Homo sapiens: one gene and its partner. The protein of the gene in region 1 binds, or shares a complex with, the protein of each later gene. Links are inferred from orthologs where the notes say so. Each region holds a gene or a part of one and is shown on either strand. Other genes may lie near its edges.

The links.
Region 2: the proteins of PTMA (region 1) and KEAP1 are in contact, whole or in part, in a crystal structure (PDB 2Z32), measured with the Mus musculus proteins. The link is inferred for Homo sapiens from one-to-one orthologs. Residues at the interface, in NP_032998.1 of Mus musculus: Gln40, Asn41, Glu42, Glu43, Asn44, Gly45, Glu46, Gln47; in NP_001103775.1 of Mus musculus: Tyr334, Ser363, Arg380, Asn382, Arg415, Phe478, Arg483, Ser508, Gly509, Tyr525, Gln530, Ser555, Ala556, Tyr572, Gly574, Phe577, Ser602.

The regions. Positions count from the first base shown.
Region 1 is NC_000002.12:231,699,455-231,715,664, reverse strand, and holds PTMA (prothymosin alpha), read right to left. Parts: upstream 7,141-16,210; 5' UTR 6,959-7,140; coding exon 6,914-6,958; intron 4,318-6,913; coding exon 4,246-4,317; intron 4,141-4,245; exon of another isoform or gene 4,057-4,140; intron 3,779-4,056; coding exon of another isoform or gene 3,776-3,778; coding exon 3,682-3,775; intron 3,223-3,681; coding exon 3,149-3,222; intron 2,862-3,148; coding exon 2,814-2,861; 3' UTR 2,114-2,813; downstream 1-2,113.
Region 2 is NC_000019.10:10,490,200-10,505,581, forward strand, and holds the start of KEAP1 (kelch-like ECH-associated protein 1), read right to left. Parts: upstream 13,158-15,382; 5' UTR 13,042-13,157; intron 12,573-13,041; exon of another isoform or gene 12,498-12,572; intron 9,882-12,497; 5' UTR 9,835-9,881; coding exon 9,196-9,834; intron 2,064-9,195; coding exon 1,378-2,063; intron 1-1,377. UniProt on the Homo sapiens protein: Substrate-specific adapter of a BCR (BTB-CUL3-RBX1) E3 ubiquitin ligase complex that regulates the response to oxidative stress by targeting NFE2L2/NRF2 for ubiquitination.

The DNA of each region.
Region 1 (16,210 bases):
GCTTTGGTTCCACGTAAAGGACTCAGTCCTTGGGAGAGGGCATCAGTTGCCCAGAAGGAAGGTCTGGGAAATGACCACTGACTGTCACATCTGACTGGGGTTCCAGCAACAGAGAGGGAGAAAGGTCTTGTTGCGGGAGTCAGGTGGAGGGTGACTGGCGTTGCCTACCTTGGGACCAGGGCCCACTGAAGGGTCTTTCCTGGACAGAATTCAGCGGCACGCTTTACAGTTCCTCTGTGTCCACCAGGGGGCGCCCATTCCTTGATAATCTTTTAACCTGGGCTCCAGTGGGAGGTCATTCGGGGACTTTGGGAGTGGTATCAAGGTGACTCTGGGCCCTGAGGTATATCCTCAGGCAGTGGTTAATTGTGTGCTAGGCTCAGGACTAGGGGTAAGTGTGTTCTGCTAGAACCAGCAAATGCTGTTCCAGGCCAAACCTTTGGTGGGATGAGGCAGCTCAGACAGCAGAGGCAGTAAGCTCTGCTGATATGGGTGTCTCAGGGGGACCCTAGCAAGGCAGCCCTGGGCCCTGGCTCATGCCTCATCCTATTGTTCCCATTTTGCAGAGGAGGGGATTGAAGCCCACAAGGTTCAGTTACTTGCCTCATGCTAACATGCCTGCCGTGTCTGTGTGCGGACCAGGGCACAGCTTCTCCCCTTTCAGGGGCCTTGCGGTAGTGGTCCCGAGCAGGACTGCAGCCTGAGGGAGCTGGGTTAGATCTGCTCTCAGCTCCAAGCGCTACCTGCCCTGTGTGGCCTTCCTTCACGGCCTTCGCCTGCACTCCTGCCTTAGAGACACCCTCCTGGGCGCCGAGCTTGGGAACACTGCAGTACTGAGTCGCCTTGGGCGGCAGAACAGAGAGGAGCCAGCGTTTTGGCTCCAGACCCTCCCTTTCTTCCCTGGATGAGCCAGGATGCAGATACCCAGGCTGTGCAGGGGGTGTGGGGTAGATACAGGTCAGAGGGTCCCTCCTACCAAGGCCTCAACCTGCCCCCGATCCTGGTGGCAGCTGCCTGGGGACATGCTGAACAAGCGGCCTGAGCAGCCCCATGAGAGTGACTAAGCTCCAGCCAGAGAAGGGAAAGGTCCCCCCAGAACTCTGGTGCCTGGTGTGAAACACAAAGGTCGGGGGGGCATGGAATGGGGTGGACACGGTGTCAAGGGGCAGGTAGAGGGAACTGGTCTCTCTTGCTCTCTTCAATGCACACATTTCCCTCCTTCCCAGCATCTCCCCTTAACCCAGGCCAGGCCTCTGCAGACACTTCAGTCTGCTCCTGGGAGTTTTCCTGCAGATACCACTGGATGGCTTCCTCAGGTCCTACCTGGGCAACAGGCCCACTAGCAGTGCCTATACCGGCCCCTGCCCCTGCAGCTCTCATTGGAGGATCCCAGAAGGTTCTAGGTGAGCTCTAATCCTTACCTCCACCTCTGAGGGCACGAGCTGGTGGCACTTCCTCCAGTTGGCTATCCTGACCCACTGCTCACAGCCCGTGTATGAATATCCAAACGGCACAGTAACTTCTCCAACTGTGTTCAAGGGGCAGGGTGGGCCTGCCCAACTAACCTAAGGGACCTGGAGACCAAAGGTTGGATGACTGCCAGGCTGCACCAGTGCCAAACCAAAACCCCGGCATTCTAAGAGGCCGGGGGGTACCACGTGCCACCAGCAGGGGGAGCCACGTCATGGAGCTAAACCTGTGAGGCCTGCAGAGGCAGCCACCACTTGGACGCTCATCCTGGGAGGCTTGGCAAGTTCCCTCTTGGCCTATACCACCAGCACCCTGCGCTCCACATAATGGCAGTCCCGTGTGGCCCGTTTCCAGTGTCTAGGACTGCAAACCCCCACCCCCAGGGCACCAGGGTCCCCATGTGGCACCCAGTGATGAAGTCCTCCTCCCCAGTTAAGGCTTCTTGGGGCAATCACTGACTGCCCCAGTGAGCAGCCCCCCCAGCCAACTGCAGCTCAGTCCCTGCCCACCCACCAGACTCTGCTGCCCATCACAGGACACATCCAACTGCCTCCCAAAATGTCAACCCACTGTCCCCAGGATCCTCCCCCTCCTATCCTTGTGCCCTGGAAGGTCTGAAGAAACTGAAACAGAAAAACCAGGCTTGAGACAGCTTTGTTAGAACAACTCAGCAAAATAAAATTCCTGTTTATTGTTGGACAACATTGTTTCACACATACATCAAACAGGCCAAAAAAAATAAACAGCAACTTCATAGACAAAAAAGGAAAAAAAAAGAAACCTTTTATCTTTGGCCTTTTTAACCATCTCATACAAACCAACTACTTATAGTACAGCTAAGTACATACACAAAAAAGTTACTGGAATGCTCGGAATAAGATTGTTTTTCTGTTGTCATTTTTGCTTTTTTTACAAGGTTTTTTTTCTCCTTTGAGATTATAATGAACATGGTCACACCACAAGTAAAGTCAGAAGTAGGACAGAGAACGCTCCGAAGGCTGGTTTGGTCATCCGAGATCATTAAAAATGGCTGACCCTAACAATATGTACAAAAATATAAAATGTAAATAAAAAATACAAACAAATTTCCTTTTTAAAGTACTTTTAAGAAAAAAAGCAGGGCCTTGGAAGTTTTGGTTCTTTTTTCCTCCCCTGTTGCAAATTCTCATGGTTTGGGTTGGGTGGTGGAGAGCGCGTGTCATCTGCGGGTGGCACTGCCCACGGTGGGCGGGCGGGCCTCTCTACTCGAAGGTGACCACGTTTAGATTCTGAGACGGGAAGTGGAGGGTGAATAGGTCACGGCGGCCTTTTTTTTTTTAGTTTAACTTTTCCTTTTTTGCTGTCTAGTCATCCTCGTCGGTCTTCTGCTTCTTGGTATCGACATCGTCATCCTAAGCAGAGAAAGACTGTCAAAGGCCCCTCCAACCCCAGGAGCCCTATCCAGCCCACTGCCTCAGCTCCTGCTGGCAGAGCAAGAACCAGGGACCCCCAGCTCCACAGCCCAAGGCCTCTGGGAAGTTGAGCCCAGCCCTGTTTCCTTCCTGTTCTTAAGATTCAGGACCACACAGTGGCCACCTACAAAGTCAGAAACAGTCCCTCCGCAGCTTGAGCACCTCAGCTAAAGGCAGGTGGGGAGACCCAGATGCCAAACCCCCCTTCTTCTCAAGCCAGAACCCACCTCATCATCTTCAGCTGCCCGCTTGCCCGTAGCTGACTCAGCTTCCTCATCTTCATCTCCATCCTCTTCCTCACCTGGAGAGAATCAAAGGCCAGGTAAACCACACTTCCCTCCTACTGTGGCTCCTGGGGAAATCCCGAGGAACATGTAGTGGACTGCAAGGTCCCTGCCCTGCCTCTACTGCCTGCAACTGGGCCCAATCAGGGCACCCACGCCCACTACACAGGTGGGACTCTCCAGAGGAGAGAGGCCCAAGCAGCTGCACCCCAAAAGGCCAGCCCAATAGATCAGTGGCTTTCAGAGCTGCACGAAAGAAACTTTCAGGTGTGCGAGTGAGTGTGAGTGGGCATGGGCACAACTCCATGTCAGGGAGACCTTCCCTGACTCTACAGGTGGGTGCCCAGGGCCATGTGGTCCACTGGCCCCAAGTACCATTGTCCCACTCCCAGGAGCCCCAATTCCTTCCTTCCCCTTCTGCCAGACAAGGCCAGGAAAAAGTACCTGAAAAGGGGAAGATAGACAAGGCTACTCACCATCACCTTCTTCTTCCTCCTCCTCTTCCTCCCCACCTTCTTCCTCTTCTTCGTCTACCTCATTGTCAGCCTCCTGCTCCCCATTTTCCTCATTCTCCTCGACAGAAAACAGGCCATGTCATTACCAGCTGGCCCCAGGCTGGACAGAGCGTTGCTCCTGATGCCCGGCCTCCCACCAGAGGCTGGCGGCTGCATCTACAGCCCAGCCAAGCCAAGCCCACCCCAGAGACCCTTCTCCAGTCAACACCCTCCAGGCTCCATCATGAAACCTGCACATTAACTGCCCCAGGACAAGGGCTTTTCCCCACCCTGGGCCAAGCCCAAACTCAGACTACCGGAGTCTCCTCTGAACCTATTCTTGTTCAGGCGCTGCTCGAAAGGTTTTTATAAATATTTAACTAGCAATAATCGCGCCTCGGGTAAAGCTCATTGGCTACGATACTGCCACTGTGCAAAGCTATACATATACACATACACACACATATATAGGTATGTTTAAAGTAGAACAGGAAAAATTTTGTGGGGCGGTAGCTGCCAGGGCTCAGGAGCAAAGCAGACACTCACAGCATTCCCGTTAGCAGGGGCGTCTCTTCCATTTTCTGCCTCTTCCACAACTTCCTTCTTCTCCTTTAAGTCCTTCAAAAGGGAAGAAGGAACCAGTAACCAGTAAGTCTTCTGAGCAACCCAGGGTAAGCAAAGGCGCTGAGAACTACTGGTCTGTACGGCTGTTCTGTCCGTCCCAAATTAAGAGTCGCATGTTGAGAAAGGCCTGATGCCCCTGCGGTCCCTCTCCCACTGGTCTGGTGGAAGGAAGGCCGGCGGGGGGCATCTGTGATCAAGGTTTCCCATCCTTTAAGGCCCGCTACAGCGGCCCCGGTGGCGGTTCCCACTGCCCCCTGGCGCTTCCCAGGAAAAAGGAGCCATGTGGCGCCACAGCCCCCAGCCCGTCCGGCCGGGTGGACGAGCCCCGGACACTCACGCCCATCAGCCTGCTTCCAAGTGCAAAGAGCCCGCCCCTCGAGCCGTCTAGAAAGGCGGCAGGTTATGTTCCAAAAATAAATAAGGCAAAGAGAGAGGGGCCTGCGCTCGGGGAGAGCCCCACAGGCGCGCCAGCCTGGAAGGCCCGCGAGGCCGCACCGCCCCGGCCAGGACAGGTATCTAAAAAAGCCAAAGCACACCGACCCCCCAAATCCGACCGCTGTTCCTAGAGGCCGCAAACCGCTGCTTGGCGGTGCCCCAGGCCGGGGCCTGCCGCCGGAGCCACCAACTCCCGGCCTCCCCGCGGCGGCTAGGGATCCCGACAGCACCTCGGGGGTGGGACTCCGCCCGGGATCCAAAAGGCAGCGCGGCCCCGGGCGCCCGGTAACTTTTTCCACACGACACGGCCACCAATACCAACAGAGGTCCGGCGTCCGGGCCTGCGGGAACCCCTCGGCCGCTGTCCGGCGAGCGGCTCCGGGCCACCTGTCGGCCCTCTCAGTCCGGCCCGCCCCGCTCCGCTCCGCGGACCCCGGCTCCGCCCGCTCTCGCCCCCTGGCGGCCGAAGCCCCGGGGAGCAGTGGGGGCAGGGAGGTCGCGGCGCGCAGGCGCGCATCCCCCGCCCGGCGGGCTTTGCGCGCGGGCCTCGGCACGCACCGCGCGCAGGGAGCACGTGGCCCGGGGCCGCCGAGTGCGTCCCTTGCCTTGGAGACTCCCGGCCGGCAGGCAGAGCTTGCAGTGGCACGCGCGCGGGTCGCGCGTCGGTCGGCCGGGCTCTCGACTCGACGCCCCACTGCCGCCACCCCGGCAGGCCCGAATGTCTGCATTCGGCGGGCCAAGTCCCACGGGAGGTCGCCCCAAAGTCCACCGGGCTGCGTAGGTCCGAGACTGTCGGGGATGCGCCTCTCGGGCTACTACTCATCGCCCTCGCGGGAAGTCACCTTTTGGTGCTTCGGAGAAAATCGAACAGCCAGGCCCCGCACTGGGGACGGTGTTCTCACCCCACAAACTCATTCCCGGACTGAGTCCAGAAGGGGTCACTGAGAGCCCCTGTGGAGATCCGGGCCCCGAGCTCCGCTCTGCCAAGAAGTCGCCCCTGGGAGAGTCAGAGATGACGCCAGGGACACAAGGGTTAAGGAGACGCCAAGGTGACTCGCGCCAATCCCTGCAGGGGCACGACGGGCGCGGACGAGGGCCGAAATATTAAGAAAGAGCCAGTCAGTCTGAGAGCGCCCCGCTCCCGCCAAGGGCGGAGACGCTACCCAGGGCGGGCAGTGGGACCGAGGCGGCGCCGACAACAGGAGCGGAGCCGCACCAGCCGCGCAGGACCTCATAGCCGAGGGCAGTGAACCCGCCACGGGGCCCGGGCGCCCCCCCAGTTCGACCCTACCATTGGCCTGTCGCGGCCGCCGTGTTGGCCCGCGTCGCCCCGAGCTGCGGCGCACACGGTGCTCCCGGGCAGCCGCGGGGGGCGCCCATCGTCGCCCCAGCGCCGCGCTTCACTTTCTCTTTCCTCCCTGCGGCGCGTGGGCTCTCGCCTCCTCAGCCAAGCCCGGCACCGCGGGTGCATGACTGAAGCTGGGCGGCCGCTCCCGGCGCACTCACCTCGAAGGGCGCCCACCCCCGCCTCCCAGAGCGCCCAAAGCGGATAAGCCCGTCACACCTCCGCCGGGACGGCCGACGTCGCGGCCAGCCAGCCCGTCGCCCCATCCGCCTTATCGGGACTTAGTCTAGACAAACCACCTCAGGTCCGCTGCAGGGCGCGAAACCGCCGGCCTGGCGCCGAACAAAGAGCAGCGCGGCCGGCGGGCGCTCGCCGCCACTTCCCGCGGCCGGCCCGCGCCCCAACACGCGCCCCCCAGCACTTCCGATTCCCAACGCGCTTGAGTTTCAAAGTTATTTCCGTGCGCCCGGCGGGCCGACGACCCCCAGCCAGGCTCTTCTCCTCCCGCCGCCACTCATACCGGCCACAGACGAGTTTCGAGGGCCGTGAGCCGGCCTCCGCGCCTAGCCCTCGGCCCCCGAGGGCGCCCGGCCCACTCCCCGACGGGCATCACGTCTGCCCGCGGCGGTTCCCGCCCCCTCCCCCGCACCACACAAAGAGTGGGCTGCCTGAGGGCACCGCGCCGGGGGCGGGCCGTTTCCCCGCGAGAGGGAGCAACAGCGGGCTTGAGACAGTCCAGCTGCTGCGCGCCAAACACCGCCCGAGCGGCGGCGCGCGGACCCCGAGGGGGCGGGCGGCGTCCAGCCTCACCTTGGTGGTGATTTCGGAGCTGGTGTCTACGGCTGCGTCTGACATGGTGGGGCACGCCGGTGATCCGATGCAGGGGATTAAAAAGAAAGCGAGAGTTCAGGGACTCTGGCGATAAAGCTGCCGGAGTCCGCGGCGGCGGAGGAGGCGCGCGGCGGAGGCGGCTGCGGCGAGCAAGGAGGCGGATGAGGAACAATGCAAAGATGGCTTTTCAGAGCAGCCAGTGGGGGACTCACGCGGCGCCAGAAGCTTTAATATAGATTAGTGGGCGGCGCTCGGCTTCCCATGCCCGGCCGCTATTGGCTGAGCGCAGGGAGCGGGCGCTCGCTCATTGGCTCGATTCCGAACAATGGACAAGCGTGCTTAAAGCGGCAGTGCCCCGGCGCGTCCCGCGCTGCGCAGTCGCCGATCGCACTGTCATTCAAGGCCGGAGTTTGCCGGGTCTCAGCAGGGCCGAGGGCGCGGGGGAGGGGTGCGCGAGCGCGTTCCGGACGCGCGCTCCCGCAGCTGTTTTGCTGGGGCTGCTGACGCAGAAAGCCAAAGCGCGGCAAAGCTGCCCGCCCAACCCCCTTCCCTCCCTCTCCCGCCCTCCCCGCGGCTGCTCGGAAGGAGGGGGAGGGAAGAGGGGGCGGCGGGCACACGACGGCTGCCAGCGCGGGGGAGGGGAAGGCGGGGTGCTGGGCCGCGCTCGCCCCGGGCGGTGCCCAGCGCAGTGCCCGCGGAGGTGCCCGCCCCCCGCGCCTGGGCGCCTTGGACCAAGGATTGTCCCAGTGCAAGTGGACGGCAGCCCCACGACGAGCAACGAGGTCACGAGGCCGAGACCCGGGCACCTGGGCCGCCCCGTCCCTCTGCCATGCCCTCGCGCCCTCCCAGGGCAGGGCACCCCTAGTCCTGTGGGCAGGCGACCTCGATTGCCCACCATCAGGTCCGGCGTCCGTCGGCCAAGTCAGTCGACAAGCGGGCACCGTCCCAAGCACACACGGATTCATGTATCAAGCGGACTCGATGCGCGATGCCGGCTCCAGCCCTCGAGTGGGACAGCCCGCGGGCCCCGCACGGCATAGCGGTCCCCTCATTCTAGGTTTCTAGTTAGGGTCTGTCCCGAGCGGTCACTGCCGTCGCGACAGCCTCAGGGCAGCCTCCTCCAGGGGCCTGCCGGGCCATCGAGTCTACCCTTCTCCCACCCCACTGCTGGACTGCGATGGGCACATGAACATTACAGAGTTCCTCGGGAAAAATCATCGTCTCTGGAGCCAGTTGGGCTAATCTTTGGGGACTACCTGAAATTTGGGGGACCATTTAGAGAACCATGCGGAGCCCCGAGAAAGGGGAGCATCAAAACGCCACACTCAAGATGGCGCCGGGCTCGGCAAGCGTGGCGTGACGTAGCGATCTAGCTCACGTGGGCGATCCGAGAACAACAGGCTACGCTGGCCTTATCGCCACCGCACTTAGCTGTCGAACTAAGAAATCGGTTGTGTGGGAAAAAGGACCAGAATAGGTGGAAAGATAGTCCAGAAATTTACCTGTGCCACACACAAGATGGCGAGACGTAGGGTTCGTCCCTGTGCTGCCAAAAGGGGGCGCCCGACACGGAAGGCGGGACTCCGGAGACACGAGCGCACATTGGCCGAGAGTGGCGGGCGAACACAAAGTTGACGCTTTGCGTCCTTCCATTGGCAGTTTCTTCCGTCTGTCTCTCGGTTGCAGCCGAGCTGGGAATGGGGAAAACCCGGAGTGTGGGATCGTGGAGGGCGGACGATGCCAAGTCCAGCAGAGCTTGCGCTCGGGGCTAGAAGAGAGACTGAGTCTCCCTTCTCAGTTTCATTAGGTAATGGGCGACATGGCTCCGTCTCCACAGCGGGGCTTTGCTGAGCTTAGCACGCAGTCTCCCGGCGGGGAGGAGGCGCGCAGTGCCGGGCGCCACTCCGTCTCCAGTACGCGTTAGGCCCGCGTTCCCAGGTGCCCGTCTGGCCGCTGGACTGTTGGCCTTTCCGGAGCGAGTTTTACTTTAGGAAGAAGCCCGGGATCCCGGTAGTTTAGCCTGAAGAAACGTGGGGCAGATGCTGGGCAGGGCGGGGATACCGCGCCAACACCCGCTGCCCAGCGGTCGCCCTCCTATGCAGCGGCGAAGGGACGCCCGCTGTGTCTCCGCCCTGCCCCCAGGCGCCCCAGTGGCTGGAGGTGGCATTCTCCACTGGACGGGCGCGCCTCAATCCGGGGGACTTCCACAGTGCTGTTCCCGAGGACTACGCGTCTCAACTCTTTGTCGGGTTCCCTCCCTCCCACTGCCAGTCTGTCTTCACCGCCGCGCAGACCTGGGGCCGCCCTTCACAGAGGAAGGGCTCCTTGACCTCAGCCACCGTGACCCCCTCCTTTGTGTCACATTCTCAGAGAGTTGGAGGGATTATGCGTCATCGTAAACAGGGGGACAGAGCGCCTTCCACCTGCGGCGCATCCATTAAGTTCCAGTTACCCTCGAGAGGATTGTTTTTTCCACGAAACCCAGATGCAATGAGAGCCTGGCTTGTACCATCTCTAAGCATCGAGGCTTCCCCCTCGTCTGGGTGGTGGCCTTCGGGCAGTGGCTCCGGAAAGGCCATCAAGGCTTCCCCGTCGTCTGGATGGTGGCCTTCGGGCAGTGGACTGTGTCCATAGCTGAAAACCAGACTTGACAGTTCTGGATTCAGGCTGTTGTGGGAGCGGGAAGGTCAAACACCCAGAAGGAACTGATGAATGTGAATTTCCCTCTAAGAACTGCTTTGCCTGGCCGGGCGCGGTGGCTCACGCTTGTAATTCCAGCACTTTGGGAGGCTGAGGTGGGTGGATGCCGAGGTGAGTGGATCACGAGGTCAGGAGTTCGAGACCAGCCTGACCAACATAGTGAAACCCCCGTCTCTACTAAAAATACAAAAATTAGCCGGGCCTGGTGGCGTGCGCCTGTAATCCCAGCTACTCGGGAGGCTGAGACAGGAGAATCGCTTGAATCCGGGAGGCAGAGGTTGCAGGAGCTGAGATCACGCCATTGCACTCCAGCCTGGGCAACAGAGTGAGACTCCATCTCAAAAAAAAAAACAAAAAAAGAACTGTTTTCTGACGTTATTCCCATGCAGGTGCCTTTGCTAGAAGTGGGTGAGGAAGGCTCATGCCCATCTGGTTCCAGAACCACCACTTAAATTTCCCAAACACTCACTGAATGCCCGCTGTGTACATGGCAGTGAGCCTTTGACTCATGCTTCATTTTCATGTACAAGGTGGGTAGGACAGTTATGGAGTTGAACCATATGAAACTGATGTCTATGTAGGTGAAAACGAACTGAAAATCAACACATTTACAGGTTCAACTTCTGATATAACCCTCCTTTTAACAAATCAAAAAAGCAAACCTAGAGATTATAGCAAGGGACTTGGAGTTACCCACTGGATCAATGATGGAGCCGAGGCTAAGTCCTAAAACAGAGGAATCTGCATTTTTAGATGAGCCCTGGGGCAGAAGTTGCCCCCATGGACCTCCCTCTCATCCCAGGAGTGTGGTATCTGACAGCTCATAGTGGGGGAGTTATTTAGGCTATGAAGAACCGTGTTCCTTCAGCAACAGGTAGCTCCCTACCTCTTTTGCTGTTTCTTTTTTTTTTTTTTTTTTTTGAGACAGAGTCTCACTCTGTTCAGCCCAGGCTGGAGTGCAGTGGCGTGATCTCAGCTCACCACAACCTCCGCCTCCCGGGTTCAAGGGATTCTTCTGCCTCAGCCTCCCGAGTAGCTGGGACTACAGGCGTGCACCACCATGCCTGGCCAATTTTTGTATTTTTAGTACAGATGGGGTTTACTATTTTTGTATTTTTAGTACAGACGGGGTTTCACCATATTGTCCAGGCTGGTCTCAAACTCCTGACCTCATGATCCGCCCACCTCGGCCTCCCAAAGTGCTGGGATGACAGGCGTGAGCCACCGTGCCAGGCTTTTTTTTTTTTGAGACGAAGTTTCACTCTGTTGCCCAGGCTGGGGTGCATTGGCATGATCTTGGCTCACTGCAACCTCCGCCTCGTGGGTTCAAGTGATTCTCCTGCCTCCCTCAGCCTCCTGAGAAGCCAGGATTACAGGTACCTGCTACCATGCCCAGCTAATTTTTGTATTTTTAGTAGAGACGGGGTTTCACCATGTTGGCCAGGGTGGTCTCAAACTCCTGACCTCAAGTGATCCGCCCGCCTCAGCCTCCCAAAGTGCTGGGATTACAGGCATGAGCCACCACACCGGCCCTCTTTTGCTGTTTCTGAACAGACTATTCTTCCTGTCCTCTGTCACTTCCACTCATTGATACATCTCATGCCCTTTGTTATTACAGAGGAAGTCAGGCACTTTGGTGACCTTGCCCTTCAAACCCCCCAAGACAAGCTGGTGTGCCCTGGTAAGCCTGCTTTCCTGACCCCAGCCTGAGATACAGTGGGCTTCGGCTAGAGCTGCTGTGAGCAAGGGACCCAATATGTCCTCCAGGCATGTTTTGTTTTGTTTTGAGATGGGGTCTTGCTATGTTGCCCAAGCTGAACTCCAACTCCTGAGCTCAAGCTATCCTCGCACCTCAGCCTCCTGAGTAGCTGGGACAACAGATGCTTGCTACTGTGCCTGGCTTGTTTTGGGGGAATTTTCACAGGGACACCTCTGGGTGGTCTACACACTGTCCACATGGCCCACAGGCCTCTCCCCGCCCAGCCTGAGTAACACATTGATTTCATCTGCCTGGCCCTGTGGGCACTTCAGTTTGCAACTAAGCCTGCTCCTAAAGCCATTTACAACATATTTCTAATTGGTTATCTCACAAATCTGCTTGATCCCCAAAAGATCAGGCAGAATGAATTTTTAAGCTGCCTGGGTTCAAATGGCAGCCCTGACATACACTAGCTTTGTGAATTGGGCAAGTTACTTTCTCTCCTCTAAGAAACAGAGAGGACGGCCAGGTGTGGTGGCTCACACCTCTATCCCCAGCACTTTGGGAGGCCTAAGCAGGAGGATTGCTTGAGCTCCGGAGTTGGAGACCAGTCTCGGCAACATGACGAAACATCGACTCTAAAAATTTTTTAAAAATTAGCCGGGCATGGTGGCATGTGCCTGTAGTCCCAGCTACTCAGAAGGCTGAGGTGAGTGGATTGTTTGAGTCCAGGAGGTTGAGGCTGCAGTGAGCCATGATGGTGTCACTGTACTCCAGCCTGGGCAACACAGCAAGACTCTGTCTTAAAAAATAAAAAATAGGCCAGGCGCTGTGGCTCACGCCTGTAATCCCAGCACTTTGGGAGGCTGAGGCGGGCGGATCACGAGATCAGGAGTTCAAGACCAGCCTGGCCAACATAGTAAAACCCCATCTCTACTAAAAATACAAAAAATTAGCTGGGTATGGTGGTGCACGCCTATAATCCAGCTATTCTGGAAGCTGAGGCAGGAGAATCACTTGAACCCAGGAGGTGGAGGTTGCAGAGCCAAGATTGCTCCATTGCACTCCAGCCTGGGCAACAGAGCAAGACTCCGTCTCGAGAAAAATAAAAAATAATAATAAATTTAAAAATAAGCTGGGTGTGATGGCTCACACCTGTAATCCCCGCACTTTGGGAGGCCAAGGCGGGCAATCACCTGAGGTCAGGAGTTCGAGACCACCCTGGCCAATGTGGTGAAACCCCGTCTCTACTAAAAATACAAAAATTAGCTGGGCGCGGTGGTGGGCACCTGTAATCCCAGCTACTCGGGAGGCTGAGGCAGGAGAATCGCTTGAACTCGGCAGGCGGAGGTTGCAGTGAGCCAAGATGGCACCACTGCACTCCAGCCTGGGTGACAAGAGTGAAACTTCTTCTCAAAAAATAAAAAATAAAAATAAAAATTAAAAATAAAAAAGAGAGGCCGGGCATGGTGGCTCACGCCTATAATCTCAGCACTTTGGGAGGCCGAGGCAGACTGATCACGAGGTCAGGAGTTAGAGAACAGCATGGCCAACATAGTGAAACCCCATCTCTACTAAAAATACAAAAATTAGCCAGGCATGGTGGCGCGTGCCTGTAGTCCCAGCTACTCAGGAGGCTGAGGCAGGAGAATCACTTGAACCCGGGAGGTGGAGGTTGTAGTGAGTTGATATAGCGCCACTGCACTCCAGCTTGGACAACAGAGTGAGACTTCATATTAAAAAAATAATAAAAACAAATAAAAAAGAGAAGACAATAATAGTTCCTACTTTGCAGGATTATTGTGAGAATTGAATAAGTTAATATTCAGAAAGTGCTTAAAATAGTGTCCGACACATTTGGGAAACCACTGCACCCCATTTTCCAGCTGCTATCTGTACCTAAGTGGGTTGGCTTTACAGAGCTTGTAGGACTCTGGACAAAGGAACAATGTCTTCAGCAAGTTCTTTCCGTATTCAGTGGGAAATGAGGGCACTGGCCTCTCTAGTTTCTGGAAGCCTGTGATTTGGTGCCCGACATGCTTGGCAGCCCCTCTGGCCTCAAAGGCATGACAGAGTCTGGGAGGCAGGTGGAGTGGAGCAGGTCTCAAAAAATCCCGCCTTCCAGCCCTTCAGAAACCCAGGAGTTTCAGACTGTGGTTTCCTTATCCAGGCATAAGGGCCTGGGGAGCTGCCAGGAGCCTTTCTACCCTCCCGCCTTGCGAGCCTGGCTGGGATTGTGTAAGAGCCCCCAACGCCTGCTCCCTCAGCACGCCCAGGCCTGCCCATTCTCCTGGGGAGCTGTGCCAGAGACCTGGCTCCTGGTACTCACACAGGTCTGGCCACCCTGGGAGGTTCCTACAGGGAGAGGGTGGGAAATGTCTCTTAATGTTCCAGGCCTGTCCCCAAACCGATGCCAAGGCCTGTGGGGCCCGGGCATGAGCATAGGTAAGGAGGCTGGGAGAGGTGAGTGTGCAGTGTGCACAGACGCCACTGCCCCCGGACAGCAAAAGGCCATCGTGCCAGTCCTTGACTCCCTGTACACATGCTCCTTCAGATCCCTCCAGGAATCCTCTGCCTGCCTGTGTCACTTCCTGGCTCTCTTCCCTGGATCCCTCCGTGTGTGTGCACCTATTTGCATAGCTCGAGTTCCGTGGGTGTTTTGCTGAAGTTCCGGTTACAGTTCGTGAGTGGGTGGGCCCAGCAGCACGGCAGCAGGGAAAGGTGCTAGTTGGGGGAGCACATGAGCAGGCACACACCTGGGCACCCTACCTGTGAATGCCCACAAGAGCATTGCACCCGAGGAAAGGTTGGACACCACTATGTGACTTCCTGCTGCGCGGCCCCACATGGGAGCCCGAAGACCAGGAGGCCCAAGTAGGCCCTGAGGAGCGTCTGTGTGCCCGTGCCAAGCAGGAGGCCAAGCCCTGATAATCGTGAGGGTGAGGAGGGCAGGCTCTGCGACATCCTGACACTTACTCTTTCCCCTTCTCTGTTAATTTTTTTTTTTTTAAGAAGGAGTTTCACCCTTGTTGCCCAGGCTGGAGTGCAATGGGGCAAACCAAACTCAGCTCACCGCAACCTCTGCCTCCTGGGTTCAAGCAATTCTCCTGCCTCAGCCTCCTGAGTAGCTGAGATTGCAGGCATGCGTCACCATGCCTGGCTAATTTTGTATTTGTAGTAGAGACAGGGTTTCCCCATCTCAGTCAGGCTGGTCGTGAACTCCCGACCTCAGGTGATCCACCTGCCTTGGCCTCCCAAAGTGCTGGGATTACAGGCGTGTGAGCCACCGTGTCCAGCTCTTTTTTTTTTTTTTTAGACAGGGTCCCACTATGTCACTGAGGCTGGAGTGCAGCAGCACGATCTCAGCTCACTGCATCTTCTCTGTTCATCTTAAACAGGTCTTTTCTACCTTCCCTTCTCTGGCAGAGAATCTCCCCACCTTGTTTGGGGAGAAAGGTGTAAGGAGCAGAGGGCAGAGGCGAGGGGAGGACACACCACCAACTCGGACTGGCTCACCCTCCTCCTACCACAGGGAGCTACGGACGACGGGTGACCGACAGTCCCTGTTTGACTGAGGGATTCCCAGGATGCAGGACTCTCAGTGCCACAACTAGAAAAACTCCTGGGCAAACTGGGACATGTTGCTCATACTAGTTCACTAGTTCACTCCTTATCACATACTGGGAACATTTCTTTTCTTTTTTCTTTTTTTTTTTTTTTTTGAGACAGGGTCTCTCTCTGCTGCCCAGGCTGGAGTGTAGTGGCGGCGCAATCTCTGCTCACTGCAGCCTCAACCTCTTGGGCTCACGTGATCTTCCCACGTCAGCCTCCAAGTAGCTGGAACTACAGGTGCGCACCACCACACCCAGCTAATTTTTTAATTTTTCATAGAAACCGGGTTTCCCTATGTTATGCAGGCTGGTCTCGCACTCCTGCCCTTAAGTGATCTTCCTGCCTCAGCCTCCCAGAGTGCTGGATTACAGGCGTGAGCCACTGTGCCCGGCCAAAGAATGACATTTCTCAAGAAATCTGTAACCACCACCAAGACCATGAGTCCCTGTGGCCCTCCATCCAAAACCAGCCTCCCACTGAGATCCATCTCTCTTTGCCACAAGAATCCAGGGTGACAGAGCTACAAGGACACCGGGAGCATTTGGATTTCACATTGCAGAGTCGGGGGATTGAAGGGCTTAGGTAGATCACAGAGCGAGCTGGTGCCCAGGATCAGGACCCCTCGGGAGGGCTCTCAGCTGCCTCCAAGGTAAGGTTCGCTAATGAGGTCCAGAGCATGGAGATCCGTTCCTTTCTAGCTCCCGGCAGAGCAAGCGTCTCTAGAAGGGGAAGAGATTTCTCAGGCTCCTTTCAGAAACATTCTTTCCTCCAAGACATTTTCTGAGAATCTCACAGGAGGAATCTCACTTGAACAATTCTATAGGAAAACCTCAAAATAGGATGCAGCATCACCCAGAAGTGAAGCCTCATCAGGGAGGGGAAGGCAAGGTGGGCGCCTTTCCAGGAAAGCTCGAGTCCCATGCACATGTGAAGTCCGAGGGGAAAGCTGCCAGTCAGCACCTGGACCGAGAGCTTCCCAAGCTGTCCTCAGCCTCAGTGAGTTCTCCCGAGCCTGGCAAGTTGTGGCCCGACCTTGAATTGTGGTCATTTACGGCCCCTTCCAGCATCTTTCTCCTGGTTATGCCATCCTCTTGCTGTTAGATGCTGTAACAGTGTTATCTCACTGGGCACGGTGGCTCATGCCTGTAATCCCAGCACTTTGGGAGCCTGAGGAGGGTGGATCACCTGAGGTCAGGAGTTCGAGACCAGCCTGGCCAACATGGTGAAACCCCGTCTCTACTAAAAATACAAAAATTATCCAGGCG
Region 2 (15,382 bases), on another chromosome or scaffold:
TGAGATCATGCCACTGCACTCCAACCTGGGCAACAGAGCGAGACTCCATCTCAAAAAAAAAAAAAGAAAAAAAGAGACAGGGTCTTGCTCCGTTGTCCAGGCTGGAGTGCAGTGGTGCAATCACTGAAGCTTCAAACTTTTTTTTTTTTTTTTTTTTTGAGATGGAGTGCAATGGTGAGAGCATGGCTCACTGCAACCTCCACCTCCTGGGTTCAAGCAGTTATTCAGCCTCAGCCTCACAAGTAGCTGGGATAACAGGCACCCACCACCACGCCCGGCTAATTTTTGTATTTTTAGTAGAAATTGGGTTTCGCCATGTTGGCCAGGCTGGTCTCAAACACCTGACCTCAAGTGATCTGCCTGCCTCAGCTTTCCAAAGGGCTGGGATTATAGGCATGAGCCACCACACCCAGCCTGCAGCTATCAACTCTTGGGCTCAAGGAACCCTCCTGGCTCAGCCTCCTGAGTAGCTGGGACTACAGGTGCACACCACCGTGCCCACCTCCACTCGAACTCTAGTGCTTGCAGTTGTTCTCCAAGGATTGAGGTATCAGCAACTCCATTTTCCAAATGACAAAACTGAGCCTCCTAGCCATCAATTGCTCAAGTTCAAAAACACATCTGATAAACCCCTAGTGGCTCAGCCAGATCCCCCACTTCACAGATAACAAGATAACATCTCAGAAAGGAGAAATCACACATTCAGCATCACTCTTTGATGCTCAAAGAGTCCTTTAGGTCCGGCACAGTGGCTCACACCTGTAATCGCAGCACTTTGGGAGGTTGAGGTGGGAGAATCCCTTGAGGACAGGAGTTCAAGACCAGCCTGGCCAACATGGTGAAACCCCATCTCTACAAAAAATACAAAAATTAACCAGGCGTGGTGGTGGGTACTTGTAGTCCCAGCTACCCCAGGGTCTGAGGCAGGAGAATCACTTGAACCTGGGAGGCGAGGTTGCAGTGACCCAAGATGCACTCCAGCCTGGGCAACAGAGCAAGAGAGACAGGGTCTTACTCTATTGCCCAGGCTAGTCTCCTGGACTCAAGCAATCCTCCCACCTCAGCCTCCCAAAGTCCCTGATTATAGGTATGGGCCACAGTGCCTAGCCCAACAATTTCAAACTGATGGAACATTTTCCAACTCCGCACAAAGGAACCATATGGGTTTGTGACAGTCCCCTAAGCATTTCCCAGCCCCAGGCACAGAATCAAAGGTCACTGACTAGAACTCTCCAAGGAGCTTAGCTTCATCCTGAGGCCTCCACTCCCTGAAGACAGGAAGAGGAAACAGCCTCAGGAAGAATACCCGGATCTCAGTGTCTTGGGACTTGCCAGGAGCAGGACCCTCCGAGCCCACCCCCAGGCCCTGCCACTCACCTCTCCACACTGTTGTGGTGGATGCAGCCGTGGGAGCCGCCGACGGCATAGATGTGGCCATCGATGACCCCCACCCCGATGCGGTTACGGGGCACGCTCATGGGGGCGCAGGGCGACCACTGATTGGTCATGGGGTTGTAACAGTCCAGGGCGCTGGAGTCGGTGTTGCCGTCGGGCGAGTTGTTCCTGCCGCCCACGGCGTACAACAGCCCGCCCACCACGCAGCCGGCCAGGCCGCTCCGCGGCACCTGCAGGTCCGCCAACCGGAGCCAGGTGCCGTCACTGGGGTTGTAAGCCTCCAGGTAGCTGAGCGACTGTCGGAAGTAGCCGCCCGCGGTGTAGATCAGGCGGCCCACCTTGGGCGCCCGGCAGGGCATCACCTGCGTGGGCTTGTGCAGGGTGAGCTCCTCGAAGATCTTGACCAGGTAGTCCTTGCAGCGGGAGTCGGACTGCAGGATCTCGCACTTCTGCAGCTGCATCTGCAGGAAGTTCGGCGTCAACGAGTGGCAGCGCACGGCCCGCAGCAGCGCCTGGACGTAGAACCGTCGCTGTTCGCAGTCGTACTTGACCCAGTTGATGCAGGCGTGGAAGACCTCGGACTCGCAGCGCACGTTCAGGTCGTCCCGGCTGATGAGGGTCACCAGTTGGCAGTGGGACAGGTTGAAGAACTCCTCTTGCTTGGCCACCTGCAGAGGGCGACAGTGGGACGGGCTGACTCTCCAGTCACCCCCACACCTCACCAAGCAGGACCGGGACAAGTAACTTATCACTGCCGCTGACAGTCTCAGCTTCCTTATCTGCTAAATGGGGATTCAAATAATAGGAACCGCGTACATTGTGATGACTAAATGAGTTAATCCTGCCGGGCGCGGTGGCTCACGCCTGTAATGCCAGCACTTTGGGAGGCCGAGGCTGGCGGATCACGAGGTCAGGAGTTGAGAGACAAGCCTGGCCAATATGGTGAAACCCCATCTCTACTAAAAATACAAAAATTACCCGGGTGTGGTGGCACACGCCTCTAGTCCCAGCTACTCGGGAGGCTGAAGCAGAAGAATCGCTTGAACCCGGGAGGCGGGAGGCGGAGGTTGCAGTGAGCCGATATTGCGCCACTGCACTCCAGCCTGGGCGACAGAGCAAGACTCTGTCTCAAAGAAAAAAAAAAAAGAGTTAATACTATGTGCCAAGTATGTCATCAGGACTCAGGAAAATGGGCAAAGACTCAGTAGATCGTGTACCCTGGGGTATCATTTGGCTTTGGTTTTTGAGACAGAGTCTCACTCTGTCACCCAGGCTGGAGTGCAGTGGCATGATCTAGGCTCACTGCAACCTCTGCCTCCCAGGTTCAAGCAATTCTCCTGCCTCAGCCTCTCAAGTAGCTGACATTACAGGCACCTACCACCATGCCCCGTTAATTTTTATTTTATTTTATTTTATTTTGATATGGATTCTTACTCTGTTGCCCAAGCTGGAGTGCAGTGGTGTGATCTTGCTTCACTGCAACCTCCGCCACCCAGGTTCAAGTGATTCTCCTGCCTCAGCCTCCCAAGTAGCTAGGATTACAGGAGTGTGCCTCCAGAGCAGCTAATTTTTTTTTTTTTTTTGGAGACAGTCTTGCTCTGTCGCCCAGGCTGGAGTGCAGTGGAGCGATCTCCGCTTGCTGCAACCTCCGCCTCCTGGGTTCACGCCATTCTCCTGCCTCAGCCTCCCGATTAGCTGGGACTACAGGCGCCCGCGACCACGCCCAGCTAAGTTTTTTTGTATTTTTTTAGTAGAGATGGGGTTTCACCGTGTTAGCCAGGATGGTCTCGATCTCCTGACCTTGTGATCCACCCGCCTTAGCCTCCCAAAGTGCTGGGATTACAGGCGTGAGCCACCGCGCCCGGCCATTTTTTTGTATTTATTTTTAGTAGAGACGGAGTTTCACTATGTATTTTTAGTAGAGATGGCATTTCTTCATGTTGGCCAGGCTGGTCTCAAACTCTTTTTTTTTTTTTTTTTTTTTTGAGATGGAGTCTCGCTCTTTTGCCCAGGCCGGACTGCAGTGGCGCTATCTCGGCTCACTGCAAGCTCCACCTCCCGGGTTCACGCCATTCTCCTGCCTCAGCCTCCCGAGTAGCTGGGACTACAGGGGCCCACCACCGTGCCTGGCTAATATTTTTTGTATTTTTAGTAGAGACGGGGTGACTGTGTTAGCCAGGATGATCTTGATCTCCTGACCTCGTGATCCGCCCGCCTCGGCCTCCCAAAGTGCTGGGATTACAAGCGTGAGCCACCTCGCCTGGCCAGTCTTGAACTCTTGACCTTAGGTGATCTGCCCATCTCAGCCTCCCTAAGTGCTAGGATTACAGGCGTGAGCCACCGGACCTGGCCTGTTTTTGCTTTTGAGACACAGTTTTGCTCTGTCACCTAGGCTGTAGTGCAGTGGCACAATCATAGCTCACTGTAGCCTTGAACTCCTGGGCTCAAACGATCTTCCCACCTCAGCCTCCTGAGTCGCTGGGACTACAGGTGTGTGCCACCACGCACAGCTAATTTTCATATTTTTATGGTAGAGACGGGGTTTCACCATGTTGGCCAGGTTGGTCTGGAACTCCTGACCTCAAGTGGCCCACCCCCTTGCCTTCCAAAGTGCTGGGATTACAGGCATGAGCCACCGTGTCCGGCCGTTGGTCTTAAACTCTTGAGCTCAAATGATTCTCCTACTTCAGCCTCCTGAGGATTACAGGTGTGCATCACCATACCTGGCTTGGCTTTTTTTTTTTTTTTTTTTTTGAGATGGAGTCTCGCTCTGTCGCCCAGGCTGGAGTGCAGGGGTGCAATCTCGGCTCACTGCAAGCTCCACCTCCCGGGTTCACGCCATTCTCCTGCCTCAGCCTCCCGAGTAGCTGGGACTACAGGCGCCCACCACCACACCCGGCTAATTTTTGTTTTTGTATTTTTAGTAGAGACGGGATTTCACCGTGTTAACCAGGCTGGTCTTGAACTCCTGACCTCAGGTGATCTGCCTGCCTCGGCCTCCCAAAGTGCTGGGATTACAGGCCTGAGCCACCGCGCCTGGCCTCTGAGTTTTCTGTTTGTTTCTTTTTTTTTTTTTTTTGAGATGGAGTCTCGCTCTGTCGCCCAGGCTGGAGTGCAGTGGCACGATCTTGCCTCACTGCAAGCTCTGCCATCCAGGTTCATGCGATTCTCCTGCCTCAGCCTCCGAGTAGCTGGGACTACAGGTGCCCACCACCATATCCAGCTAATTTTTTGTATTTTTAGTAGAGACGGGGTTTCACCATGTTAGCTAGGATGGTCTCGATCTCCTGACCTCGTGATCCGCCTGCCTCAGCCTCCCAAAGTGCTGGGATTACAGGCGTGAGCCAACGCGCCCGGCCTCTTTTGTTTCTTTTTTTTTTTTGAGACAGAGTCTCACTCTGTCGTCAGGCTGGATACAGTGGCGTGATCTCGGCTCACTGCAACCTCTGTCTCCGGGTTCAAATGATTCTTCTGCCTCAGCCTCAGCCTCCTGAGTAGCTGGGACTACAGGCACGCACAACCACACCCGGCTAATTTTTGTATTTTTAGTAGAGATGGGATGTCTGAGTTTATTTTTTAAGAGACAGGGTCTTGCTCTGTCACCTATGGTGGAGTGCAGAGGTGCCACTGTAACCTCAAATTCCTGGGCTCATGTGATTCTCCTGCCTCAGCCTCCCAAAGCACTGAGATTATACGCACGAGCCAACTCACCCATCTTGTTTTTTAAAATGAAATCATTTTCTAAAATGGCAAATAGACTAAAAAAGGAAAAAATAAGCAATCACAATAGAATGTTGTGGAAAAAAACAAGTGACAGCTCTGGGCCAGCACAGTGGTTCCCACCTGTAATCCCAGCACTTTGGGAGGCCAAAGCAGGCGGATCACCTGAGGTCAGAAGTCCGAGACCAGCCTGGCCAACACGGTGAAACCCCGTCTCTACTAAAAACAAAAAAATTAGCCAGCTGTGGTGGTGGGCACCTGTAATCCCAGTTACTGAGGAGGCTGAGGCAGGAAAATCGCTTGAATCCAGGAGGCAGAGATTGCAGTGAGCTGAGATTGTGCCACTGTACTCCAGCCTGAGCAACAGAGTGAGACTCCATCTCCAAAAAAAAAAAAAGTGGAAGCTCCGAAGAAACCAGCATGAGTTGGAATTTTGATCCGACCACTTCGTAGGTGTGTAACTTGGGCAAATCTCTGAAATGCTCCATGTCTTGGTTTTCCTCCTCTGTAAAATGGGATTATATTAATGGCCACCTCAAAGTAAGGCTACTTCTAGGGTATACAGAGCCCTGGATAAATATTTCTTGTAGCCAGGTGTGGTGGCTCACGCCTGTAATCCTGGTACTTTGGGAGACCAAGGCGGGAAGATTGCTTGAGCCCAGGAGTTTAAGACCAGCCTGGGCAACATAGCGAGACCTCATCTCTACCAAGAAAAGATATAAAAATTAGCCAAGCATGGTAGCTCACGCCTGTAGTCTCAGCTACTCAGGAGACTGAGGTGGGAGGATCACTTGAGCCCAGGAGCTGGAGTTTGTGATAAGCAGAGATCGTGCCACTGAAGTCCAGCCTGGGTGACAGAGTGAGACCCTGTCTCTAAAAAAAGAAAAAAAAAAAAAAAAGGCCAGGTGCGGTGGCTCACACACGTAATCCCAGCACTTTGGGATGCCAAGTCGGGCGGATCACTTGAGGTCAGGAGTTCAAGACCAGCCTGACCAACATGGTGAAACCCCATCTCTACAAAAAATACAAAAATTATCTGGGCATGGTGACACATGCCTATAATCCCAGCTACTTGGGAGGCTGAGGAATGAGAATCACTTGAACCCGAGAGGCGGAGGTTGCAGTGAGCCGAGATCATGCCACTATACTCCAGCCTGATGACAGAGTGAGACTCTGTCCCCCACCCCCAAAAAAAAAAAAAAGGGGGCTTGGCGTGGTGGCTCAAGCCTGTAATCCCAACACTTTGGGAGGCTGAGGTGGGCGGATCACGTGAGGTAAGGAGTTCCAGACCAGCCTGGCCAACATGGTGAAACCCTGTCTCTACTAAAAATACAAAAATTAGCCAGCGTGGTGGTGCACCCCTGTAATCCCAGCTACTTCGGAGGCTGAGGCATGAGAATCGCTTGAACCCAGGACATGGAGGCTTGCAGTGAGCCGAAATCTTGCCACTGCACTTCAGCCTGGGCGATAGAGCCAGACTCAGTCTCAAAAACAAAAAAGGACTGGGCGGTGGGGGGCGGGCGTGGGCGCAGTGTCTCATGCCTGTAATCCCAGCACAGTTAGGGAGGCCAAGGCAGGCAGATCACCTGAGCTCAGGGGTTCGAGACCAGCCTGGCCAACATGGTGAAACCCCATCTGTACTAAAAATATTTTTTAAAAATTAGCTGGGCATAGTGGTAGGCACCTGTAATCCCAGCTACTTGGGAGGCTGAGGCAGGAGAATTGCTTGAACCCAGGAGATGGAGGTTGCAGTGAGCCGATACAGTGCCACTGCATGCCAGCCTGGGTGACAGAGTGAGACTCCGTCTCAAAAAAAAAAAAAAAAGTTGTCAGGCACTCGTCTATGTAATCAGTTTTAATCTAGTACCCCATGTTCATACAAACACAAGAAAGAAACACTGTATATGTTTCTCCTACTGTATAGACCACTTTCCTAGAAGCTGCAGGCCCTAGGACTAACGCCAGAGAACCCTGGGGCGTCTGATCAACCCCACATGTAACATAGAGGGTAGGAAAGAATCTATCCCTGAAGGAGAGAAATAGAGATCAGTGTAACATCCATCCCAGCTGGTACCAGCCAGTGGGGGACTTAGAAAATTTCCAGGAAGGAACACCAAGACATGGGACTCCCGAAGGCTTAGGGCCTGGGGCACTGCCCTGCTTGCCTAGGCTGAAGGGTAGTACTGCCTCATAGGACAGTTGGGAACAGTCAATGATGCAAAGGACATAAATCACTTAGAACAGGGGCTGGCCCACAGCAAGTGCTCAATAAACACTTCTTGGCCTGGTGTTGGTATGGTGCTTCATACCTGTAATCCCAACACTACGGGAGGCCAAAGCCAGAGGATTGTTCAAAGCCAGGAGGTTCGAGACCAGTCTCAGCAACATAGCAAGACCCTGTCTCTACAAAAAAATTTAAAAACTAAAAAATTAGCCATGCGTGGTGCTGCATACCTATAGTCCCAGCTACTCAGGAGGCTGAGATAGGAGGCCTCCTTGAGCCCAAGAGTTGGAGGCTACAGTGAGCTATGATGGCACCACTGTATTCCAGCCTGGGGACAGAGCAAGACCTCATCTCTTCAAAAACTTTTTCTTTTTTTTTTGAGACAGAGTTTCGCTCTTATTGCCCAGGCTGGAGTGCAATGGCGCAATCTCAGCTCACTGCAACCTCCGCCTCCCGGGTTCAAGCGATTCTCCTGCCTCAGCCTCCTGAGTAGCTGGGATTACAAGCATGAGCCACCATGCCAGGCTAATTTTGCATTTTTAATAGAGACGTGGTTTCTCCATGTTGGTCAGGCTGGTCTTGAACTCCCGACCGCAGGTGATCTGCCCACCTTGGCCTTCCAAAGTGCTGGGATTATAGGCATGAGCCACCGCGCCCAGGCTTTTTTTTTTTTTTTTTTGAGACAGAGTCTTGCTCTGTCGCCCAGGCTGGAGTGCAATGGTGCGATCTCGGCTCACTGCAACCTCCACCTCCCCGGTTCAAGCGATTCTCCTGTCTCAGCCTCTCGAGTAGCAGGGACTATAGTCACATGCCACTACACCCGGCTAGTTTTCTTTTTTTGTATTTTTATTAGAGATGGGGTTTCACCATATTGGTCAGGCTGGTCTCAAACTCCTGACCTCAGGTGAGCCACCCGCCTCAGCCTCCCAAAGTGCTGGGATTACAGGCGTGAGCCACTGGGCCCTGCCCTCTCTTGTCAATTTCTATAGATAATTTCCTTCACTGAGAAATGTGAAAACGAAACCAAAAACAGTATAAGGACATTGTGTGGACCAAAGAAAACATGACTAAGGTTCAGACTTACAGCTTGCAGCCTGTCACGGGTGTCCAATAAACATTTGCTGACTGCCCGAAAGGCTGGGCTACCCTAGGATTTGGCTGCTGTTCACTGCACTCTGCCCCACTTTGACCCCAGAGAAACCAGGGAGCCCAGAGACATATGAAGACCTCACCTTCCCCAGCTGTTCACCAGTCTCCCCACATGTGTAGACAAGGAACTCAGAACCCCAGTTGTTTTTTAATTTTTTTTTTTTTTGAAACTGAGTCTTGCTCTGTTGCGCAAGCTGGAGTGCAGTGGCTCGATCTCCACTCACTGCAACCTCCACCTCTTGGTTCAAGCGATTCTCCTGCCTCAGCCTCCTGAGCAGCTGGGACTACAGGCGCCCGCCACCAGGCCTGGCTAATTTTTATATTTTTAGTAGAGATGGGTTTTAGCTATGTGGGCCAGGCTGGTCTTGAACTCCTTACCTCAGGTGATCCACCTGCCTCGGCCTCCCAAAGTGTTGGGATTACAGGCATGAGCCACCACGCCCGGCCCCAGTTGTTTTTTGTTTGTGTGTTTGTTTGTTTAGAGACAGGGTGTCATTATGTTGCCTGGGCTGGTCTTGAACTCTTGGCCTGAAGCAATCCCCCCGCCTCAGCCCCTCAAACTGTGGAGACTACACCACCATACCCAGCCCAGAACCTCCTTTTTCTCCAGTTTCCTGCCTTGACATCTCAAGGGGAGACAGTGATGAGCACTCGTCCATCCCTGGTCCTTCTCCTGACACTGCCCCCAGCCCCACTTCCCCGCTCACCTCCCCAAAATGCATGTAGATGTACTCCCGGGCACGCTGGTGCAACTCCACACAGCCAATCTGCTCAGCGAAGTTGGCGATGCCGATGGCATTGCTGGGGTCCAGCTGCTGCACCAGGAAGTCACTGCAGGCACGGACAACGCTGTCGATCTGGTACATGACAGCACCGTTCATGACGTGGAGGACACACTTCTCGCCCATGGAGATGGAGGCCGTGTAGGCGAATTCAATGAGGCGCTCCATGACCTTGGGGTGGATACCCTCAATGGACACCACCTCCATGCCCTGCTCCCGCAGCCCGTTGGTGAACATGGCCTTGAAGACAGGGCTGGATGAGGCCAGCACCACCTTGTGGGCCATGAACTGGGCGGCCGGTGCATCCTGGTACTTGACCTGCAGTGTGACGTCACACAGCTGCTGGCTGAGCCGCAGCTCGTTCATGATGCCAAAGGCCTGCTTGGTATGATCCTCCAGGGTGTAGCTGAAGGTGCGGTTGCCATGCTGGGAGGGCGTCACCTCCGCCTTGCACTCAGTGGAGGCGTACATCACCGCGTCCCCTGCCCCCTCAGGGCACTGTGACTGCAGGGGCAGGAATCGGCAGCAGGCCCCAGCCCCGCTAGGCCTGGGATCTGGCTGCATGGGGTTCCAGAAGATAAGCAACACCACCACCTCTGGCACTCAGGGACCTGGAGGGGAGAGAGCACAGGGCAGAGGGCAGGGGTTGGGACTGGGCCAGCACCTGCCGGGCCTCGTTTTGCAAGATAAAGCAATTCCTAGGTCAGTTTTCCTGCAAAGTAGGTGAAGCAGAATCCATTTGCAAACTTGCAAACTTCCCCGACCTGATCAACCTGATTGGCCCAAGAGCCCATCTTAAAACATACATGAAGTCATGTCTCTCCCCTGCTCTGGATCCTCCAATGCCTCCCACAGTACCTAGTAAAACTGAACTCCTCAACAGCCTGCAAAGCCCTACGCAATTAGCCCCTGCCACCTCTTCCCTTTGATCACTCTGCTTCAGCAATCTGGCGGCCTTTCCCTTTCTAGAGCATGTTGAGCTCATTCCTTCATTTGCCTCACCATTTACTGGGCACCTACTGTATGCCAGGCACTGATCTGGGTGCTGAAGACACAGCAGTGAGCAAAATACAAAAATCCTACCCTGCCAGAGCTGACAACTGCAGGGAGGAGCAATCATAAACTAAAATAAGCAAGACCTGGAAAAACAGCTTCATGAAGAAAATTACAACAGCATTGTGACAACGTGAGAATCGGGTGCAGTTTGTTTGCTTTTTTTTTTTTTTTTTTCAGATGGAGTCTCTCTGTCACCCAGGCTGGAGTGCAATGGCTCGATCTTGGCTCACTGCAACCTCCGCCTCCCGGGTTCAAGCGATCCTCCTGCCTCAGCCTCCCGAGTAGCTGGGACTACAGGCGTCCGCCACCACACCCGGCTAGTTTTTGTATTTTTAGCAGAGACTGGGTTTCGCCATGTTGGCCAGGCTGGTCTCAAACTCCTGACCTCAAGTGAGCCGCCCGCCTTGGCATCCCGAAGTGCTGGGATTACAGGCGTAAGCCACCATGCCTGACCCGGGGTGCAGTTTTTTAAAATCTGGCAGACCAAGCCTCTTTGAGAAGGTGAGGTTGGAGCTGAGACAAGGATGAAAATTATTATAAAGTGGGAGGCTGGGGAGTAGTTTTCCAGGCAGAGGAAACAGTAAGTGCAGTGGCTCAGAGGCTGAGACAGTCAATCTGGAGAATTGGGAAGGAGTGCAGTGAGAGCTAAGGACTTAAGGAAGGGTTTCATGGAAACCCCTGGATCCTGGAGGGCCAGGAGATGAGTTATGTGTTTTGTGTTTTGTTTTTCGAGACAGAGTCTCGCTCTGTTGCCCAGGCTGGAGTACAGTGGTGCGATCTTGGCTCACTGCAACCTCTGCCTCCCGAGTTCAAGATATTCTCGACCGGGCGTGGTGGCTCACGCCTGTAATCCCAGCACTTTGGGAGGCCGAGGCAGGCGGATCACAAGGTCAGAAGATCGAGACCATCCTGGCTAACATGGTGAAACCCCATCTCTACTAAAAATACAAAAAAATTAGCCGGGTGTGGCGGCGGGCGCCTGTAGTCCCAGCTACATGGGAGGCTGAGGCGGGAGAAAGGCGTGAACCCAGGAAGCAGAGCTTGCAGTGAGCCGAGATCGCACCACTGCATTCCAGCCTGGGTGACAGAACAAGACTCCATCTCAAATAAAACAAAAAAAAGATATTCTCATACTTCGGCCTCCTGAGTAGCTGGGATTACAGGCACCAGCCACCACGATGGGCTAATTTTTTGTATTTTTAGTAGAGATGGGATTTCACCATGTTGGCCAGGGTGGTCTCAACCTCCTGGCCTCAAGTGATCCCCCTCCTCGACCTCCCAAAATGCTGGGATTACAGGCATAGGCTGCTGTGCCCAGACGTGAGTTACGTTTCAAAAGGAGTGGGGGATCTCCAAGTGGCTCCCCACAAGTGGATCTGCAAGTTCTCACTCCCCTCTTTCTGGGACTCAACTCAAAGTCTCCTCTTCCCTGTTTTATTGTCATCACTGCGCTTGTCAGGAACTGAAATGACCTCCTTTGCTTGTCTGTTGATCGACTGTCTCTCGTCCCCGGCCCCAGCGCCTCAAATGGCAGGGAGACCTATGTAGGTCGGCGTCGGGCCAACCCTCTCCTGTGCCTCTCGCCTGGGGCCTGGCACTGCGCAGGGGTCAATAAACGGGTGGTTGGCTAACTGCCCTGCCACCGTGCCTGCCAGAGCGGCCTCCTCCACCCTCCCTGGGTGCCACTCGGCCCCCACTCTGGTGCCAAGGCCCTGGGTTTGCCTCTTGGTCTTTGGCCAATCGGTCAACAATGCCCCTTGGGCACCGGGCACTTCCCCCACCCTACAAAGCGGCAAGTGGGCGACTGCGCATGCCCCTCCTGAGCCTCCACCAGGCCCAGTGAGGCGAGGAAGTGACCCCACCGCGGCCTCTCGGCTGCCAACCCCAGAACGCAGATCGAGCCCCTCAACGCCTCGGAGCCCCCGGGCCTCCTTCTGCGCAGCGCCTCCTGGTTCTCTCGCTCGGTTTCCGCCGCTCCCGGGCCACCCCAAGAGTTGCGCCGTCCAACAAAAATATCCACCCAGGTCGCGCCCTCCTGGCCCTCCGAGTCCTGGCGGGGAACTCGGAGGCGCCCTGGGCCGTGGCGCCCGTTTTCCTGGTCTCCGGGCACGGCCGCAGGGGCGCTCGCGGCCCGCGATGCCCGCAGCCCGGGCACATCCCGCCTCACTCACCCCGCCATGGCCGCGCTCCGGCTCCGCCTCCACCGCCCGAGCCCCGGCGCCTCCATCGCTGCGCGTGGGGGAGGCGCGGAGCGCGCGCAGGTCACCATGACTAAGCAGAGCCGGGCGCCCGCCGTGTCACAATAAAAGTCCCCGGGCCCTGGCCTCAGGCGGTAGGGACCGCTGAGGGGCCGCTCCCCACCCCCGCCCACGCCTGCTGTCGCCCAGCTGCGCGGCCACCACGGCGCCCAGCATGGCGGCGGGGCGGGGGCACGCGACCCTGAGCGCGCTTAGCCGCGTGGTCCGAGTCGCGGGGAGTCTGAACCCCGAGTTCCAGGCCTGCGCGCCCCGGCCCGCACCAGGGGTGGGGTGGACACCCCTCCCCGTCGCTGCTGCCCAAGCGCTCACCTCAGCCCCCAGGTCGCCTCCGTAGGGGGTCCCTCGGGGTGGGGATGGCCGGGGCGCGCAGGGGCTCCGGGCACAGTGATGCCACCCGCGCACTGCGCTTCCGGGAAGCCGGGGGACCGCGACCCAGTCCAGGAGATTCCTGCCTTACCTTGGCTGTAGGGGACCCGCGGGCGCCTCCGCCGTCGGGGGGCCTCGGCTCCAGGGCTGCGTGGCCTGCGGGGTCTTGGTTGTCGGTTGGGGAGCGGCCTCGGGACGCCCGAAAAGGAGGCGGGGAGAGGGCGGAAAGGGCGCGGCGGGAAAGGAGCGGCGATTCTCCCGCCCTTCCCGCAGGTGCCCGGCGCCCGTCGGCGAGGAGTGGGGCATCGGGCGGGGGCGCACAGCCAGGCCCCCCTTCTCACTGTCCCTTCCATCTCCCGATTTCGTTGCTGGATGTCTCCTCGCGGGGCTGCGCGCCACCATCTGCTATTCTCCTTTTAACAACGCACAGCGCCGGCCTCGTGGTCCGGCGGCCGCAGGATCTAGGGAAAATTATCTACCTCGCTAGGTTTTCTTTTCTTTTCTTTTCTTTCTTTCTTTCTTTTTTTTTTTCCTTTAGAGACAAGGTCTCGCTCTGATCTGCACGCCCAGGCTGGAGTGCAGTGGCGCAATCGCGGCTCACTGCAGCCTTGAGCTCCTGGCCTCAAGCGATCCTCCCACCTCAGCCTCCTGAGTAGCTGGGACCACAGACAGGCGCCACCACACCCGGCTAATTTTTAGTTTTTGTTTGTTTGTTTGTTTTTCTGTAGAGATGGGGTCTCGCAATGTTGCCCAGGCTGGTCTTGAACACCTGGGTTTAAGAGATCCTGACTCCATTGGCCTCCCAAAGTTCTGGGATTATAGGTGTGAGGCGCTGTGCCCAGGCCTCAGGTTTTCCTTGTCTTTTTTTTTTTTTTTTTTTTTTAATTGAGACAGAGTCTCTCACTGTCACCTGGGCTGGAGTGCAGTAGCTCGATCTTGGCTCACTGCAACCTCCGCCTCCCGGGTTCAAAAAATTCTGCCTCAGCCTCCCGAGTAGCTGGGATTACAGGCGCCCGCCATCATACCCAGCTAATTTTTTGTATTTTTAGTACAGATGGGGTTTCACCATGTTGGCCAGGATGGTCTCAAACCCCTGACCTCATGATCCGCCCGCCTCGGCCTCCCAAAGTGTTGGGATTACAGGCGTGAGCCACCGCGCCCGGCCTTCCTTGTCTTTATTTTTGATTTACTTCCTATCAAGAGGCGTGTGGCACCCGTCTTTGGGGGGTTCAAACCCTGGATCTGCCTCTTACCAGCTCAGTGCCCGTGGGCGCTTACTTAGTTCTCTATGGTTCAGTTTCCTCTCTATAAAAAGTAATAATATAATAGCACCTACCTACCAGATTATCATTAAGACTAAATGCGGGGCCGGGCGCGGTGACTCACACCTGTAATCCCAGCATTTTGGGAGGCCGAGGCAGGCGGATCACGAGGTCGGGAGATCGAGACCATCCTGGCTAACATGATAAAACCCCGTCTCTACTAAAAATACAAAAAATTAGCCGGGCGTGGTGGCGGGCGCCTGTAGTCCCAGGTACACAGGAGGCTGAGGCAGGAGAATGGCGTGAACCCGGGAGGCGGAGCGTGCAGTGAGCCAAGATCACCGCACTGCACTCCAGCCTGCGCCACAGAGCGAGGCTCTGACTCAAAAAAATAAATAAGTAAATAAAAAATAAAAATATTAAATGCGAATGCTGGCTCCCAAGAGACAGAAACCATTGCTATTTTTCATGACTGGGGATACTGATTTGTCATGCACACCGTTTATCATGTAACGTTAACTTTTAAATAAATGTATGTAAGTTTATTTTAAAGAATTCATCTAGGCTGGGTGCGGTGGCTCACATCTGTAATCCCAGCACTTTGGGAGCCGAGGTGGGTGGATCACGAGATCAGGAGTTCAAGACCAGCCTGGCCAACATGGTGAAACCCCCATCTCTACTAAAAATACAAAAATTAACCGGGCGTGGTGGCGGGCGCCTGTAATCCCCAGCTACTCGGGAGGCTGAGGCAGAGAATTGCTTGAACCCGGGAGGCAGAGGTTGCAGTGAGCAGAGATCGCGCCACCACACTCCAGCCTGTGCAACAGAGTGAGACTCTGTCTCAAAAAAAAAAAAAAAAAAAGAAAAAAAAAGAATTCATCTAAATTTCATCCAAATTATAATTATTTTTAAAAGATAGAGAGGCCAGGCGCAGTGGCTCATGCTTGTAATCCTAGCACTTTGGTAGGCCAAGACGGGTGGATCACCTGAGGTTAGGAGTTCGAGACCGGCCTGACCAATATGGTGAGACCGCCGTCTCTACTAAATACAAAAAATTAACCGGGTGTGGTGGTGGGTAAGTGAAGGTTGCAGTGAGCCGAAATCCTGCCATTGCACTCCAGCCTGAGCAACAGCGCGAGACTACGTCTCGAAAGGAAAAGAAAAAAAAAA